Linked DNA regions of Homo sapiens: region 1 is linked to region 2. A link means that fine-mapping ties the variant in region 2 to the expression of a gene that starts in the linked region. Tissue or cell type: whole blood. Region 2 holds a variant in brackets; the other region holds the start of a gene. All regions are shown on one strand. Distances are between the middles of the regions.

Region 1 (8,169 bases), 27 kb after region 2:
GTAATCCTAGCACTTCGGGGGCTGAGGCAGGAGGATCACTTGAGCCCAGGAGTTTGAGACCAGCCTGGGCAACAAAGTGAGACTCCTCTACAAAAAAATTTTTTAAAAATAGCCAGGCATTATGGCGCATGTCTATAGTCCCACCTAATTGGGAAGATGAGCTGGGAGGACTGCTTAACCCCAGGAGATCAAGGCTGCAGTGAACTATGATGGTGCCAATGCACCCCAGCCTGGGTGACAGAGCGAGGCCCTGTCTCAATTAATTAATTAAGTAAACAGTCTGGTACTGGTACATGAATAGAGACTAAAGTAGCAGAGCAGAAAGTCCAGAAACAGAGCGCTATATGTGCAAGAATTTAATATACAACAGAGGTAGAATTTCGAGCAGAAGAGAAAAGATTAACTCTTAGGTCAATGCTGCTAGGACAAATGAGCAGCCATCTGAAGAAAAATCAAGTGGGCTTCCTAACTCACTTCCTGAAAGAAATCTCAGGGGGATAAAAAAATCTGACTATAAAAAATATAGACAATACAAATATATTTGAAAAATACAAAAATATAAGACCATAAAAATATCAGAAGAAAACTAATTATAAAAAGATCTGCCCAGGCACGGTGGCTCACACCTGTAATCCCAGCATGTTGGGATGCCGAGTCAGGAGGATTACTTGAGGTCAGGAGTTTGAGACCAGCCTGGCCAACATGGTGAAACTCCATCTCTACTAAAATTACAAAAATTAGCCGGCATGGTGGTGTGCGCCTGTAATCCCAGCTACTTGTGAGGCTAAGGCAGGAGAACCACTTAAACCTGGGAGGCAGAGGTTGCAGTGAAACGAGATCGCACCACTGCACTCAAGCCTGGGCAACAGAGCAAGATTCCATCTCAAAAAAAGAAAGACAGAAAGAAAGATCTCGGTTTAACTCAAAGGCATACAGAGCAAGATTCCATCTCAAAAAAAAGAAAGACAGAAAGAAAGATCTCGGTTTAACTCAAAGGCTTACAGAGCAAGACTCCATCTCAAAAAAAAAAAAAAAGATCTTGGTTTAACTCAAAAATGCAAAAGCCTTAAGAGACTGATAACTCTGGCTTCACAAAAACATGTTTCTCCATGTTAAATAAACAGTATAATCAAAGTCCAGATGCAACATGAAAAACTGTGGAAAATATTTGTAATGTGATAAAAGACAAATTTTTAAAATACACAGAGCCCTCAGAGATTAACGAAAAACCTCATTTGTTAAGCCAGACAAATATAAAGATACATAGATGGCTTTAAACCAGGGTTTCTCAACCTCTGCACTACTGACCTTTTGGACTACATAATTCTTTGTTGTACGGAATGCTTGTGAATTGTAGGATGTGCACCAGCATCCCTGTACTCTACTCACGAGATGCCATTAGCATCTCCATTCAATTGTGACTATCAAAAATGTCTTGAGATATTACCAAATGTCCTCTGGGGATCAAATTGTCCCTGGTTTAAATACACAAAGAGATCCAAATCCACACTTGTGATAAAATAAATGCAAATTTTAACAATAATGAGGTGACACTTTTTTCTCTAATTAGATTTTCATCATTAACTATTTTGCGGTTAGCCAACAAGTGGGATTAGAGGATCTCATTTATCCTTTTGGGTGTGCAACCCTTCTGGGGGGTCATCTGGAAATATCTGTCAAAATATAAAGTGCATTTCCTCTTTTTTCTTTTTGAGACAGACTCTCACTCTCTCTCGCAGGGTGGAGGGCAGGGCAGTGGCATGATCTCGGCTCACTGCCACCTCCGCCTCCAGGTTCAAGCGGTTCTCCTGCCTCAGCCTCCTGAGTAGCTGGGATTACAGGTGCCCGCTACCAGGTCCAGCTAATTTTTGTATTTGTAATTTTTGTAATTTTGTAGTTTTAGTGGAGACGGAGTTTCACCACGTTGGCCAGGCTGGTCTCGAACTCTTGACCTCCAGTGATCCGCCCGCCTCGGCCTCCCAAAGTGCTGGGACTACAGGCGTGAGCCACTGTGCCCAGCCACATTTACTCTTTGATCCAGCAATTTCACTTCCAGGAGTTTATCCTACATATACACTTATATATGTGCAAATAGATAAATACAAGTATAATTATGGAAGCAAAAAAAGAGTATCCAAAAAACTGGAAACAGTCTAGTATCCAACAATAGGGAACAGGTTAAATAAACAAAGGTATATTCATATACAGGTTGAGCAAACCAAATCTGAAAATCTGAAATCCGAACACGTCTGGAACCAAGCATTTTGGATAATGGATACTCAAGCTGTTACAGAATATTATGCAACCATTAAAAAGGAGGAGGGGCCAGGCGCAGTGGCTTACGCCTGTAATCCCAGCACTTTGGGAGGCCGAGGCAGACGGATCACGAGGTCATGAGATTGAGACCATCCTGGCTAACATGGTGAAACCCCGTCTGTACTAAAAATACAAAAAAATCAACAGGGCGTGGTGGCACGCGCCTGAAGTCCCAGCTACTCGGGAGGCTGAGGCAGGAGAATTGCGGGAGGCGGAGGCTGCAGTGAGCCGAGATCATGCCACTGCACTCCAGACTGGAAGACAGAGCGAGACTCCATCTCAAAAGAAAAAAAAAGGAGGCGGAAGATCTGCCATGTACTAAAAATGTATGTCCCTGGGCACAGCGGTGCATGCCTGTAATCCTAAATACTCCAGAGGCTAAGAAGGGAGGAACATCAGCCTGGGAGTTCAAGGCTACAGGCCAGTCTGGGCAACATGGGAGACCCCGTCTTTAAAAAAAACAAAGAAAGAATGTCCCAAGACATACCAACTAAAAGTAGCAAGACCAAGAATAGAGTCTGCTGCTATTTTTAAGAAAGGGTATGTGTGTGTGTGTGTGTGTGTGTGTGTGTATCCGGATGTATACAAATTATGTTCATACATGCACGAAATAGAAACGTAAGTAACTGGGGAACTAGATTTTAGGGATGGGGAGACTCACTTTTTACCCTATACTCTTTGAACTGTTTTAAGTCTTTGGCTATATGCCTGCATGTTTCAGGCAAATTACAAAATCTGACAACACGTCACTCAACTCAAGATACCCAGACCTTACATAAACCAGAAAGTAGAATGGTGGTTGCCAATGTACGAGCGGAGGTGGGGAAGAGGAGTTGTTTCATGGATAGAGTTTCAGCTTGCAGATGAAAAAAGTTCTGGAGATTGACTGCACAACGATATGAATCTACTTAACACTACTGAAGTGTACACTTAAAAAACGGTTAAGATGGCAGATTTTGTACGTATTTTAACACAATTTTTTAAGGTGAAAAAAAAATCCCCCAAAGATACCCATGTTTTAAGATCGGTTTAGTTTCTAATTTGGAAATCATTTTTTAAACACTCCATTATTACTCTAGAATTGAGCGTCAGGAACAAGTGAAAACTCTTTAAACTCTGGAGCTGCTCCTGCGACCTTTCACCTAGAACTCACACGCATTCGGCCAGGCACGCACTCCTGCTAAACTCAGGGAGGGCCGGCACTGGGGGCGGCGTGGTGACTCCCCCTCGGCCCTTTACCCGTGGAAAAGGTTTCTACACTGCTGCCATCCTGTAATACAAAAGTTTGTGTTCCTTTTCACACGTTACCGCAGATTCTCGGTGCACAGTGCCCAGCGCGGACCAGAGCTCAGAGCGTGCCCAGGCAGTATCCTTGACCTCCCACAGCCGGGCCGGCCAGCCCGGGCGATCCGCGGCGGCCCCACCGAGACGCGCCCTTCGCCCGACAGGGTCTCTCCCCGCGCCGCCCCTACCCCCTTACCCGGTGTTGGGTAACATGACTTTCGTAGATCAGAGGAGGTGGCGGCGACAGCGGCGGCGGCGAGCAGAGAGCTAAAGCTGGACCGTCCCTCCGCATTTATCCCCGCCCCTGCCCCGCCCCTGCCCCCCCCGATGCCTGTGCGGGAACTGCGCGCGGAAAAGCCGGGATCGCCGAGTGCGCCTGCGTATGCAGTGGGCCTCCTGCGCCCAGCGTTCCTCTTCGTCGCCTCCCAAGCCTGGTCCCTGATTGCAGGCTCTCCGCGCAGGCGCTTTGAGGCACAGCTCCGCCCCGCCCCCTCACTGGTCGTACGGTGACAATCAGGCTCCTGTCGGCGCCTAGCGTCTGGGCAGCGTCAGCCGCTACGTCCACCTTTTCCCTGTCTCTAGGGGTTTCTCCTCGCGCCGCTGTGTTCCAGCGCCGGCTCCGAGCTGGGAGGGTGACTGAGCCCTGAGCTTGGGCCCTCCGAGAGGTGCGTTAGCTCTGGGTCTTCTTGCCCCTACGCCCGAGCCTGGCGTTCTCTCGGCCCCCTCTTAGGAACGCTAGCCCTGGGCAGAAATTGCCTTTGTGGCTGAAGTCGGCCAGCGTCGCGTTTCCACTCTCCCGCCGAATCTGGACCCAAGCCAGCCTTCCCTTGTGCATCGGTAGATAGCTTGTGTTAAGGCGCCAGCTTCTTGGAACAGAGCTCTCTGCAAAAGTCGCGCTGAAGAATTCATAGTCAAAAGCTGAACTTGCAGAAGTTTCTACTTCTGGAATGAGTGTTGAAATGAGATCAATTCTGACATTCAGTTTCGCTTTTGGGATTATGCCTTGGACTAACTCAGCTACTCTGATGAGCTAAAGACTGTAGTATATTTGAAGGAAGACACGAGGAACTGTTTTGTATTTTGTAGGGATAGAACAGGACCTTGAGGAGATTATTATATGAAGACTAGTTAAAGAAACTAGCCTGGAGATGGCTTATGTACTCTCTCCTTTGTTTTTGTTTTGTTTTTTGAGACGGAGTCTCGCTGTCGCCCACGCTGAAGTGCAGTGGCGCGGATCTCGGCTCATTGTAACCTCCGCCTCCCGGGTTCAAGTGATTCTCCTCCCTCAGCCTCCGGAGTAGCTGGGACTACAGGCATGCATCACCACGCCTGGCTAATTTTTTTGTGTTTTTAGTAGAGACGGGGTTTCGCCATGTTGGGCTGGCTGGTCTCGAGCTCCTGACCTCAAATGATTGGCCCGCCTCGGCCTTCCAAAGTGCTGGGATTACAGGCGTGAGCCTCCGCGCCCGGCCTCTCTCCCCTTTGTTATGGGCCCTAAATGACTCTATTTCCTCCTGCATATCACCTGCCCGACTCCTGTAGGCATTTGAATTGATGATTCATGATACGGTCTTTAGAGGCTCCAGAGGAATTTGCAAATTATTATCATCCACTAAGTGATTGCTGATTACCTGAGATACAGCAGCTCAAAAAGGACAAGGTCTCTGCCTATGGGAGGTATGAGTAGCCAGTGTGTTCTTTAGACTGTTGTTAAGCATTAGGTGTTTTAAGAAGAGTGTTGATAGAGACTGTTAGATGAAAATAACTTACTCTCCTCTCATCCTTAGGAGCACTTGCTGAAGCGTGTATATATCTGTCGAATAGAGTGAATTCTTAGTAACGGGGTGACATTTCCTTCATATCATCTAAAATGTTCTCTCCTTTTTGAAAGCCACAATATCTTCAGTCTGTTAGAGCCTCCTTTCTTGAATTTGTGTGCTTCTATTTCCATTTGTTACGGAAAGAGAGCTCAACGAAGAGGCAAAGCAAACAAAAAACCTTTGCCAATTTTTCAGTCATAACGATATTTTGTGAGCCTAAATACCTGTACTTACACTATTTTTATACTTTGCGATGGCTTTCACAGAAGGCAAATATATTCCTAAATTATTAGAGGTAGTTTTACCAAGCAAGTTTAAATCCATTGTATTCAGTACTTTGACTAGAGTTCATTTAAAGTGTGATTTGGAGTTACCCATGACCTTCTACCCCATTACCTTGATTAACCTAGTGTTAGATTAATGCTAGAGGTGAGGAATGGGTGAAGGAGAGGACTTGTGAACATAATTAGATCTTCATTTTGGAAGGTGAATAATTTTGGCTTAGAACACTTCTGACTGCAGCATGAAGAATAGTTTGTGAGTAGATAAAGGCACAGAAGCCATTTAAAAGCCCATAGTAATGTAATGTGTAAGAAAAGTAGTAACCTGAACTAAGGCAGTAATAGTAGAAATGAAAAGACATACTCAAGATATGGAACCTGGCAGATGTAACTAATGATTAGATGTAGGAGCAAAGGGGGAAGATGGTATCAGTGGTGACCTTCAGATTTCTGGTGTAAAGTCCTGGGAGGATGGTGATAACACAGTAAAGAAGTGAAAACAAATGGTTTGAAAAATAGATGTCTTGAAAGTCAGGTAAGTCTCACTCATTTCACCCCTTCTCAGCTTGATAAAACTACCTAAAAATGCAACAGTTTCCTGACAGACTACTGGTTACAACACATTCTCCCAACCAATTTATATCCCTTAAGTTTTGGTTATATGCAACATTAATGTAATTTGGCTAATTTAAACCAAATTAAAGGGGTTGGAGAATTTAGAAGAATTCTGGGATAGTTTATATAACTTAAGGAAGAGCTGAACAACTAAGCTTGACAATGGGAACTAAGGTGCTTCCATGATCCTCAGCAGCATGATCTTTCTAGAATGCATTGTAGGTGGCTTCCCTGTCTTTTCTGTGTATCTGTTCAAGCTTCAAATACTAAGACAGTCTAGTACAATGTGTTTCGTTTTGTTTTGTTTTTTTGAGATAAGATCTTGCTCTGTCACCCAGGCTGGAGTGTAGCAGCATGATCATGGCTCACTGTAGCCTCAACCTCCTGGGCTCAGCCACCCAAGTAGCCAGGACCACGGGCATGTGCCACCACACCTGGCTAATTTTACTTTTTATAGACACAGGGGTCTCACTATGTTGCCCAGGTTGGTCTTGAACTCCTCACCTCAAGCAATCCTCCCACCACACAGCCTTCCAAGGTGCTGGGAAATGTTTCAACCTGTAAATTAGTTGGCCATGGCCAGGGACACAAGTGGATATGGACAATGGGGAAGTAACACAACATTGCATACCTACCTACCCCAGGTCATGGAAGTTGCGTAAATGTAGAGCAAGTAAATTGGCATTCATAATTCTGGGAAGAAAGGGGTCATAAAACTTTTTATTTCATAGGGCTTGTGATGGTTAATACTGAGTGTCAACTTGATGGTATTGAAGGATGCAAAGTATTGGTCTTGGGTGTATCTGTGAGGGTATTGCCAAAGGACATTAACATTTGAGTCAGTGGGCTGGGAAGGGCAGACCCACCCTTAATCTGAGTGGGTACCATCTAATCAGCTGCCAGTGAATATAAGACAGGCAGAAAAACCTGAAAAGATGAGACTGGCCTAGCCTCCCAGCCTACATCCTTCTCCTGTGCGTTTATCCCCTTCTTGCCCTCCAACATCAGACTCCAGGTTCAGTTTCGGGACTTGGACTGGCTCTCCTTGCACCTCAGCTTGCAGATGGCCTATTATGGGACCTTGTGATCATGTGAGTTAATACTTAATAGGCTGGGCGCGGTGGCTTATGCCTGTAATCCCAGCACTTTGGGAGGCCGAGGCAGGCGGATCACAAGGTCAAGAGATGGAGACCATCCTGGCCAACGTGGTGAAACCCCATCTCTACTAAAAATACAAAAAGTAGCTGGGCGTGGTAGCACACACCTGTAGTCCCAGCTACTCGGGAGGCTAAGGCAGGAGAATCGCTTGAACCTGGGAGGCGGAGGTTGCAGTGAGCGGAGACCACGCCACTGCACTCCAGCCTGGTGACAGACCGAGACTCTTTCTCAAAAAAAAAAAAAAAAAAAACTTAATAAACTCCCCTACACACACACACACACACACACACACACACACACACACGTATATAAGGAAGTAATAGGATATATATATATATATATATATCCTCTAGAGAACCCTGACTAATACGGATTTTGGTACCAGAAGTAGGGTCCAGAACAGGAGAAGGCTCTGCAACAGGTCCAGGCTGCTGTGCAAGCTGTTCTGCCACTTGGGCCATATGACCCAGCAGATCCAATAGTGCTTGAGGGATGAGTGGCAGATAGGGATGCTATTTGGAGCCTTTGCCAGGCCACCATAAATGAATCACAGTGGAGGCCTCTAGGATTTTGGAGCAAGACCCTGCCTTCTTCTGCAGATAACTACTCTCCTTTTGAGAGACAGCTCTTAGCCTGTTACTGGGCTTTGGTGGAAACTGAACGTTTGACTATGGGTCATTAAGTCACCATGTGAC
Region 2 (8,201 bases):
AGATTCAGACAATCCCCCCACTTCAGCTTCCTAAGTAGCTGGGACTACAGGCACGTGTGCCACCATCCCCAGCTAATTTTTCTATTTTTTGTAGAGACAGGGTTTTGCCATGTTGTCTAGGCTGGTTTCGAACTCCTGGGCTCAAGTGACCCGCCTGGCTCAGCCTCCCAAAGTGCTGGGATTACAAGCATGAGCCGCCATGCCTGGCCCTAACTAATAAAACTTTGAATGTAGGTAACTAATGAAAACAATTTTGTTTTAACACTGTCTGGGCCAAGTTTTGCAGACCCAACAAAACATACCTGAGGGAAAAATTCAGGACTCTAACTTAATAACTTAGACATTTAACCCTCGTGACCAACCCTATAACATATTACTGTATTATTGCCATTTTAAAAGTAAAGAAACTGAATCTGCAAGAAGTTAAGTTACTTGTCCAAGGTCACAAAATAGAAAGTCATGAGGGGTGAGTGTTAAGATTTGAATCCAAGCAGTCTTACTCCAGAGCCTAAGCTCCTAACCACCTATTCTGTGTGTTAACAAGATACATGTAAGGTACAGAAGCAAGTTCTAACCTGATGTATCCTGATATCCACATGGAAAATATAGAACCAGAGGGTAAATAAACAGATAAATAAATGGACAATAAGACAGGTTGTCTGATGAATCCAGAACAGATCAAGACTATGTTCTTTCATTCGATAGTCTACATTTCCCCGGCAAAGCCCAAGAAAGTATTAGTGTTTTTATTGGTTACAATAAAGTGTGATTCATAATGAGAATGACCTTACTGTTATTTAAATAACTAAAACCTACGTCTTTTTTTTTTTTTAACGCCAGGTCTTTTTCAGAGGAAGGAGACTATTGCTGGCTTCAGTAATCCTAAATAGTCCTATGAAAGGACTGTGTCCTATGAAAGACAGAGTATACATGTAAGTATTTACACATGCAAATATTTGAGAAAATGCTTGAGCTACACTTTAGTCTTTTTTTTTTTTCTTTGGAGACAGTCTTTCTCTGTTACCCAGGCTGGAGTGCAGTGGCATGATCACAGCTCATTGTAGCCTCAAACTCCTGGGCTCAAGGGATCCTCTTGCCTCAGTCTCCTGAGTAGATGAGACCACCACCACAGTCTCAGTAGCACACAAACCACTATGCCTGCCTGATTTTAAAAACTTTTTTTTGTAGAGACAGCGTCTTGCCATCTTGTGCATCTCAGTCTCAATCTCCTGGCCTCCAATAATACTCCCCTCACCCAAAGTGCTGAAATTACAGGTGTGAGCCACTGCACTCAGCCTACTTTAGTCTTTCCTAAATTCATAGAGAAAAGGAGCTCCAAATAAAGCTATTTAAAATACTATCGGGCTGGGCATGGTGGCTCATGCCTGTAATCCCAGCACTTTGGGAGGCCAAGGTGGGTGGATCACCTGAGGTAAGGAGTTTGAGACCAGCCTGGCCAACATGGTAAAACCCTGTCTCTACTAAAAATACAAAAAATCAACTGGGCATGGTGGTGGGCGCCTGTAATCCCAGCTACTCAGGAGGCTGAGGCAGGAGAATCGCTTGAACCTAGGAGGCAAAGGTTGCAGTGAGCTGAGATCGTGCCACTGCACTCCAGCCTGGGCAACAAGAATGAAACTCCATCTCAAAAAAATAAATAAATAAAAAATAAAATAAAATACTATTGACTGAATGAAGGACTTTTAGACCCTTATAAGGATTGACTAGATTTTGAACTACACTGTTAATTTGGCTCAAATCTGTTTACAACTATGTAAGTTCCCTGAGAAACACCGCAACTTCCTCCCCAACAACTCTTCTTGCAAACTTACGCAAGGTAGGTGCCTCTGGTGTTCACGTTCATCATCAGATCCAATCTCTTGGTAGGTGTGTCCAATGTATTGGTCAAACTAATGGCACTGGCATTATTTACCAGAATATCAATTCCTGTTTTCAAAATAATCAATTTCATTTTAATGAAAGACTTTTTATCACACACAAAAAAAGCGTTTACTCTCTTGAACCCTCAGTTGATTCACAAATACAGTCATGTACCACACCTAACATTTCAATCAACAATGGCCCATATACGCAACATGGTCCCTTAAGATTACAATACTGTTTTTTTATTTTATCTCTTTTCTGTCTAAGTTTGTTCAGATACATACTTACTGTTGTGTTACAAACGCCTACAGTAGTCAGTACAGTAACATGTTATACAGCTTTACAGCCTGGAAGCAATAGGCTATGCCATACAGCCTAGGTATGTGGTCAGCTAGACTATCTATGTTTGTGTAAGTATACTCTATGTTCATACGATCATAAAATCACCTAATAATGCCTTTCTCAGAACATATCCCCATCATTAAGCAATGCATGGCTATACTTCCTTTAGATAATATGACTAACCACTACCAATGCAAGACTGGTAGCTATTTCAAAATAGCACCTGCATGATTGTCACTAGCACAGTGGAGATATAGCCAATTGCCAGAGCTCCATGTGAAACTACAAGGAGGCTTAGTCTTCGGTGGTTTGTAGCTTCCACTCTTAACTGTTCTCTTACCTCCTGGTTGTCCCTCCCTGTCTCCATAAACCTTGGATCAAATTCCTTAAAGTCTTTCTTCCTCTCTAGCATGAAGTTTCAAAGGCCTGTCCTCCCTCCAAGCATAGTAGTCTCCCTTCCCCCAAGGCCCCTCACTTAAAGGGAAAGGCTCCTTTCTGGTCTTGAGAACTGGGAAAAGAGAAAGACCTACTGTTTCAATCCCAGGCAGATCATCAAAGTGGATCAATTTTGTTTTAGTGACTCATACACACACACAAAAAATAAACCTAGAGTAACTACTATTTCTGCAAATTCTATCTAGTTTCTACCTATAACCAACAAGTTTTGCTTATAGTTATATGCTTAGTGAAATAACATTAAAGGAAAATGGTAAAAATACAAAAACTATGTCAAACATTTTTTCTTTGTTTCTACCTGGTCTTCATTATTCTTTGTGAAGTGTACTTAATGATGGTTGTGTAACAATATAATAAACTTCAATGTCACTGAACTGTACACTTAAAAATAGGATGGTAAATTTTATGTTATGTGTATTTTACCACAATTTTAAAAAATTAAATAATAAATTCAAGGCTGGGGACAGTGGCTCATGCTTGTAACCCCAGCACTTTGAGAAGTTGAGGTGGGTGGATCCCTTGAGGTCAGGAGTTTGAGACCAGCCTGGCCAACATGGTGAAACCCCATCTCTACTAAAAACACAAAAATTAGCTAGGCCTGGTGGTGGGCACCTATAGTCCCAGCTTCTTGGGAGGCTGGGGTTGGAGGATCACCTGAGCCCAGGAGGCCAAAGCTGTGGTGAGCCACGATCATGCCACTACATACCAGTCTGGGTGACAGAGTGAGACCCTGTTTCAAAGAAGAAAAAAAAAAGAACTAAAACTGAATGAATATGGGAGAATGAAAAGCTTCAGCTTTCTCCCCTTACGTCCTCTCCAAAAATTAGTGGATAAACTAATTACATCAAATCCTAAGTGGCACTAGTTAACCACTTTTACTACTAGGTGAAGTCATTTTAGATAAAATATCCTGCATTTGAGCGTGGCACATTTCACATTTAGCGCCCTATCAGTTGGACAAACATCATTTTGCATTTTCTCTCCTCTTCTGACACAGGCATTCACATTTCTTTGGGAAAGGCTGCCGGCTAGGGGTAAGATTTTGGATTTAAGGGAAGAGGCTCCACTTGAGCCAAAGCTCCGTGCTTCAGTCCAGCACCCCACAGCACTCTGCATTGGGATTATAAGTACAGCCTTGCTAACACTGAAGCATTCCCTCATTTTCCACTGGCCATTGTCCCTCACATGTACATATGGTCCTCCAGAACATTAGCGGGGAGAGTGGTAATGGTTTAGGCAGGATTTGGACATGCCTAGGTGCCCTACTATAATACCATGAAAGCCTTAGCTCAATCCCCAACACCTTTTTTCTAGGAACTTTTGAACTAATTGGGGAGAAAAGAAATACTAAGATCTAAAATAGTACAAGATAAGGATCAAATGAATGTTTTAAGAAATCAGAGAGGCCGGGCACGGTGGCTCACGCCTGTAATCCCAGCACTTTGGGAGGCTGAGTTGGGTGGATCATGAAGTCAGGAGTTCGAGACCAGCCTGGCCAATGTGGCGAAACCTGTCTCTACTAAATATACAAAAATTAGCTGGGCATGGTGGCAGGCGCCTGTAATCCCAGCTACTCGGGAGGCTGAGGCAGGAGAATCGCTTGAACCCAGGAGGCAGAGGTTGCAGTGAGCCGAGATTGCGCCACTGCACTCCAGCCTGGGTGACAAGAGCAAGACTCAGTCTCAAAAAAAAAGAAAAAAGAAATCAGAGAAAGAAAAATATAATTCTGATTAGTTGGCATGGTGAGGGAACTG[AC/C]TTTGTGAAGAAGATGAAATTTAACCACATAAAGGAAGAATTTTTTCAAAAACAAATATATAAGGCACAAGTGCAATTTTCTCACATACATAGATTGTGCAGTGTCCAGGACTTTTAGGGTATCCATCACCCAAACAGCAAACATTGTACCGATTAAGTAATTTCTCTTCATCTACCCCCCTTGCATCCCTTCTTTCTTCCCAGTCTCCACAGTCTATCATTCCACACTCTTTTTCTTTTTTTTTTTTTTCTTTTTGAGACAGAGTCTTGCTCTGTCACCCAGGCTGGAATGCAGTGGTGCAATCTCAGCTCACTGCAACCTCCACCTCCCAGGTTCAAGCAATTCTTCCACCTCAGCCTCCTGAGTAGCTGGGATTACAGGCATCCACCACCATGTTCAGCTAATTTTTGTATTTTTAGTAGAGACGGGGTTTCACCATGTTGGCCAGGCTGGTCTTAAACTCCTGACCTCAAGTGATCTGCCTGCCTCGGCCTCCCAAAGTGCTGGGATTACAGGTGTGAGCCACCACGCCCAGCCTTATCAGATGGTTTTAAATCATGTTCTGTGTGAGCAAATACGTATTTCTCCAAAGACTCAGAAAATTCAAAACTCAAAACAAATTTTTAAATTAACATTATAGTTATACCTTTATTTTACCAATATCCAATAATTTTTTCAGAATGAAGGTATTACCTCCAAATTTCTTGATGGCTTTCTCCACTGCAGCACTGATCTGCTGTTCATCTCTCACATCAACAATACATGGCAAGGCCTTTCCTCCAACTGCTTCAACTTATATAAAGGATACAAAATGAAAAAGCGTTAAAGCATTTAAATATTATACCTTTAATTCCAATATCACAGTCAAAAGAAAAAAGTACCCTGTTTTCAGAAAATCAATATAAATAACTCTATCTTACCACCAGTGACTCTACCATATAGCAGGACAGACTAGCTAGGCTAACACTATTAAAAAACAAAAACGAAGGTTTGGTGGGGGTTTCTTTGTAATTTTTTTAAAAAGCTAAAAAAAGGAAGTTTTTTGTTTGTTTGTTTTTGTTTTTCAGACAGGGTCTCACTCTCTTGCCCAGGCTTGGGTGAAGTGGCACAAACACAGCTCACTGCAGCCTCAATCTCCCAGGCTCAAAGGATCCTCCCACCTCAGCTTCCCAAGTAGCTGGGACTATAGGCATGCACCACCACGCCAGGCTAATTTTTCTATTTTTTGTAGAGACACGGTTTTGCCATGTTGGTCAGGCTGGTCTCGCACTCCTGACCTCAAGTGATCCACCCGCCTTGGCCTCCCAAAGTGCTGGGATTACAGGCTTGAGCCACCTCACCCAGTTGAAAGTAATTTTTAAAAACTTTTTATTGTGGAAATATTCTAAACTATATAAAAATGTAAAGATGCTGTAATAAACTAACAGGAATCCATCACCTATCTTCAACGATTGTTAGTTTTGTCAGTTAATATGTTTATCTTTCCTGTCCCCTGTTTTATTTTTTGCTGGTGTGTTTTAAAGCAAATCCCTGACATCATTTCACTCATAAACACTTCACATGCATTCCTCTAACATAACCACAGTGCTCTGAACATGATTAACAAAACTAGCAATGTCAACTGAACTTGAATTTTTAAGCCCTCTCTCCTGGCTCTGTGCCTAGCGCTATGCCTTAAATAGAAGTATGTGATAATTATTTGTCAACTAAAAGTATTAAAATGATGACTTGCAAATTGTACAGAGAATAAATAACACAGAACGCTTTCTCAAAGAGTTCATGCCACTCACCAATCAAATTCTCTCCTCTCTACTCCACTTCCCTACTCCCCCTCCCATCCAAGAACCACTGCCCTCAAGAACCAAGATTTTTTTTTTTTTAAGAGATGGAGTCTCGCTCTGTCACCCAAGCTGGAGTGCTGTGGCATGATCTTGGCTCACTGCAACCTCCACCTCCCAGGTTCAAGTGATTCTCCTGCCTCAGCCTCCCGAGTAGCTGGGTGAAATTACAGGTGTGAGTCACCACGCCCCGCCATGAAATAAGATTTTTAACTGGAGTTTCTCACATTGCTTAAAAGTGCTGGTGGAGAAAAACGGTCAGAAGCACTGCCCCAAGGTGACAACATAAATACTTCTTTCACTAGATAAAATTATGTTCAGGGTAGCTTTCAAATAGCTTTAACTAAACTCTCCAGCAAATTCTCTATGTATTGAAACCACTAGAAAGACATTTTATCAAATGGCACTGTCACACTCACTTTCTTCAGCAGCAGTATAGATTGTGCCTAGAAGTTTTGGATGTGGCTGGGCGGTCTTTGCAGCAATAACAATATTTGCTCCATCCTTTGCTGCTTTCAATGCAATAGCTTTGCCAATGCCACGGCTTGCACCTGTGATAAAAACTGTACATCCTGCCAGCCTCCTACAACAGAACAAATACGACCTTATTAGAAGACCCAATGTTTTATTTACTGACAGGTATCAGAACCTCATGCATATTTTCATAATATATGTTTCCTCCTCTGTGAAATTTTCTCTAAACCCTCCCCATGCCCATCTGATGGCAGATAACTCCACTATACTCCCATTGCACAATGACTGATAAATTATTTATGACAACTGCAGTTGGCCAGTCTTGCTGTGATTTAGCAAACAAAATCTGTTCAAATGCAAAGCAAATCTTCAAGAGAAATAAAGAATTATAAAACAAATTATATAAACATGCATTTTTTTCCCCACAGAAAACGTGTTAATAAAGCTTTTTTTTTTTGAGTGGTGGGATTATGAGCAAATTTTATCACATCCTTTATATTCTTTAATATTTTTCAAAGTTTCCACAATGACTACATACCACTTAAAATAAATTACCTAAAAGCAAATAATTGTTCAATGAATGCTCATAATAGCCAAGGTGGAAACAACTCAAACGTCCATCAGCTGATGAACGGATAAGCAGAATGTGGTGTAGCCACGCATACAATGAAATAATGTTCCGCAATAAAGTACTGCTATGAGCTACAACATGGATGAACCAAAAACATTCTGCTAAGAGGAAGAAACCAGTCATGAAGGACCACATATGATGCCATTTATATGAAATGTCCAGAATAGGCAAACCTATAGAGACAGAAAGATCAGAGGTTACCTAGAGCTGGGAGTGGGAGGGATTGGAGGCTGACAACGGAGGGTTGAGGGGTTTCCTTCTAGGATGATTAAAGGTTTTAAAATTGACTGTGGTGATGGTGGCACAACTCTGTGAATATATTAAAAGCCAATGAATTGCGTATTTTAAATGACTGCATAGTGGGGTACGTGAATCACATCTCAAAAGAGCTGTTAAATAAACAAACGCTCACAAATTGCTGCAGGTTGATCTGAAATATTCTGATTCAAATGTACTGATGGGTCCCTGTGCCCATTTCATTCTTTGTGTGTGTGTGTTTTGTGTGTGTGTGTGTGTTTTTTTTTCTTTTGAGACACAGTCTCGCTCTGTCGCCCAGGCTGGAGTACGGTGGTGCAATCTCAGCTCACTCAACCTCTGCCTCCCGGGTTCAAGCAATTCTCCTGCTTCAGCCTCAAACAATTCTCCTGCTTCAGCCTCCCAAGTAGCTGGGACTACAGGCGTGGGCCACCACGCCCAGCTAATTTTTGTATTTTTAGCAGAGACGTGATTTCACCATGTTGGCCAGGCTGGTCTCGAACTCCTGACCTCGTGATCCACCCGCCTTGGCCTCCCAAAGTGCTGGGATTACAGGCATGAGCCA

The links. PIP is the estimated chance that this variant, and not a neighbour inherited with it, causes the effect.
Region 1: it holds the start of HSDL2, and the variant in region 2 is fine-mapped to the expression of HSDL2 in whole blood (TOPMed, PIP above 0.99).

What each region holds. Positions count from the first base shown.
Region 1 is chr9:112,375,808-112,383,976 of GRCh38, reverse strand. It overlaps HSDL2 (hydroxysteroid dehydrogenase like 2), which reads right to left and starts at 3,869. Exons shown (of 11, transcript NM_032303.5): 1 at 3,797-3,869. The coding sequence starts at 3,813. It also overlaps a transcript of PTBP3 not described here. RefSeq lists a silencer at 3,666-3,915 and enhancers at 4,136-4,255, 3,687-4,286, 4,286-4,535, 4,636-4,685.
Region 2 is chr9:112,402,653-112,410,853 of GRCh38, reverse strand. It overlaps HSDL2 (hydroxysteroid dehydrogenase like 2), which reads right to left. Exons shown (of 11, transcript NM_032303.5): 2 at 6,696-6,859; 3 at 5,132-5,230; 4 at 1,833-1,947. Among named protein-coding and RNA genes, the nearest start is that of HSDL2, 27 kb to the right of the region's middle. The variant AC/C (reference allele first, on the strand shown) is at 4,437.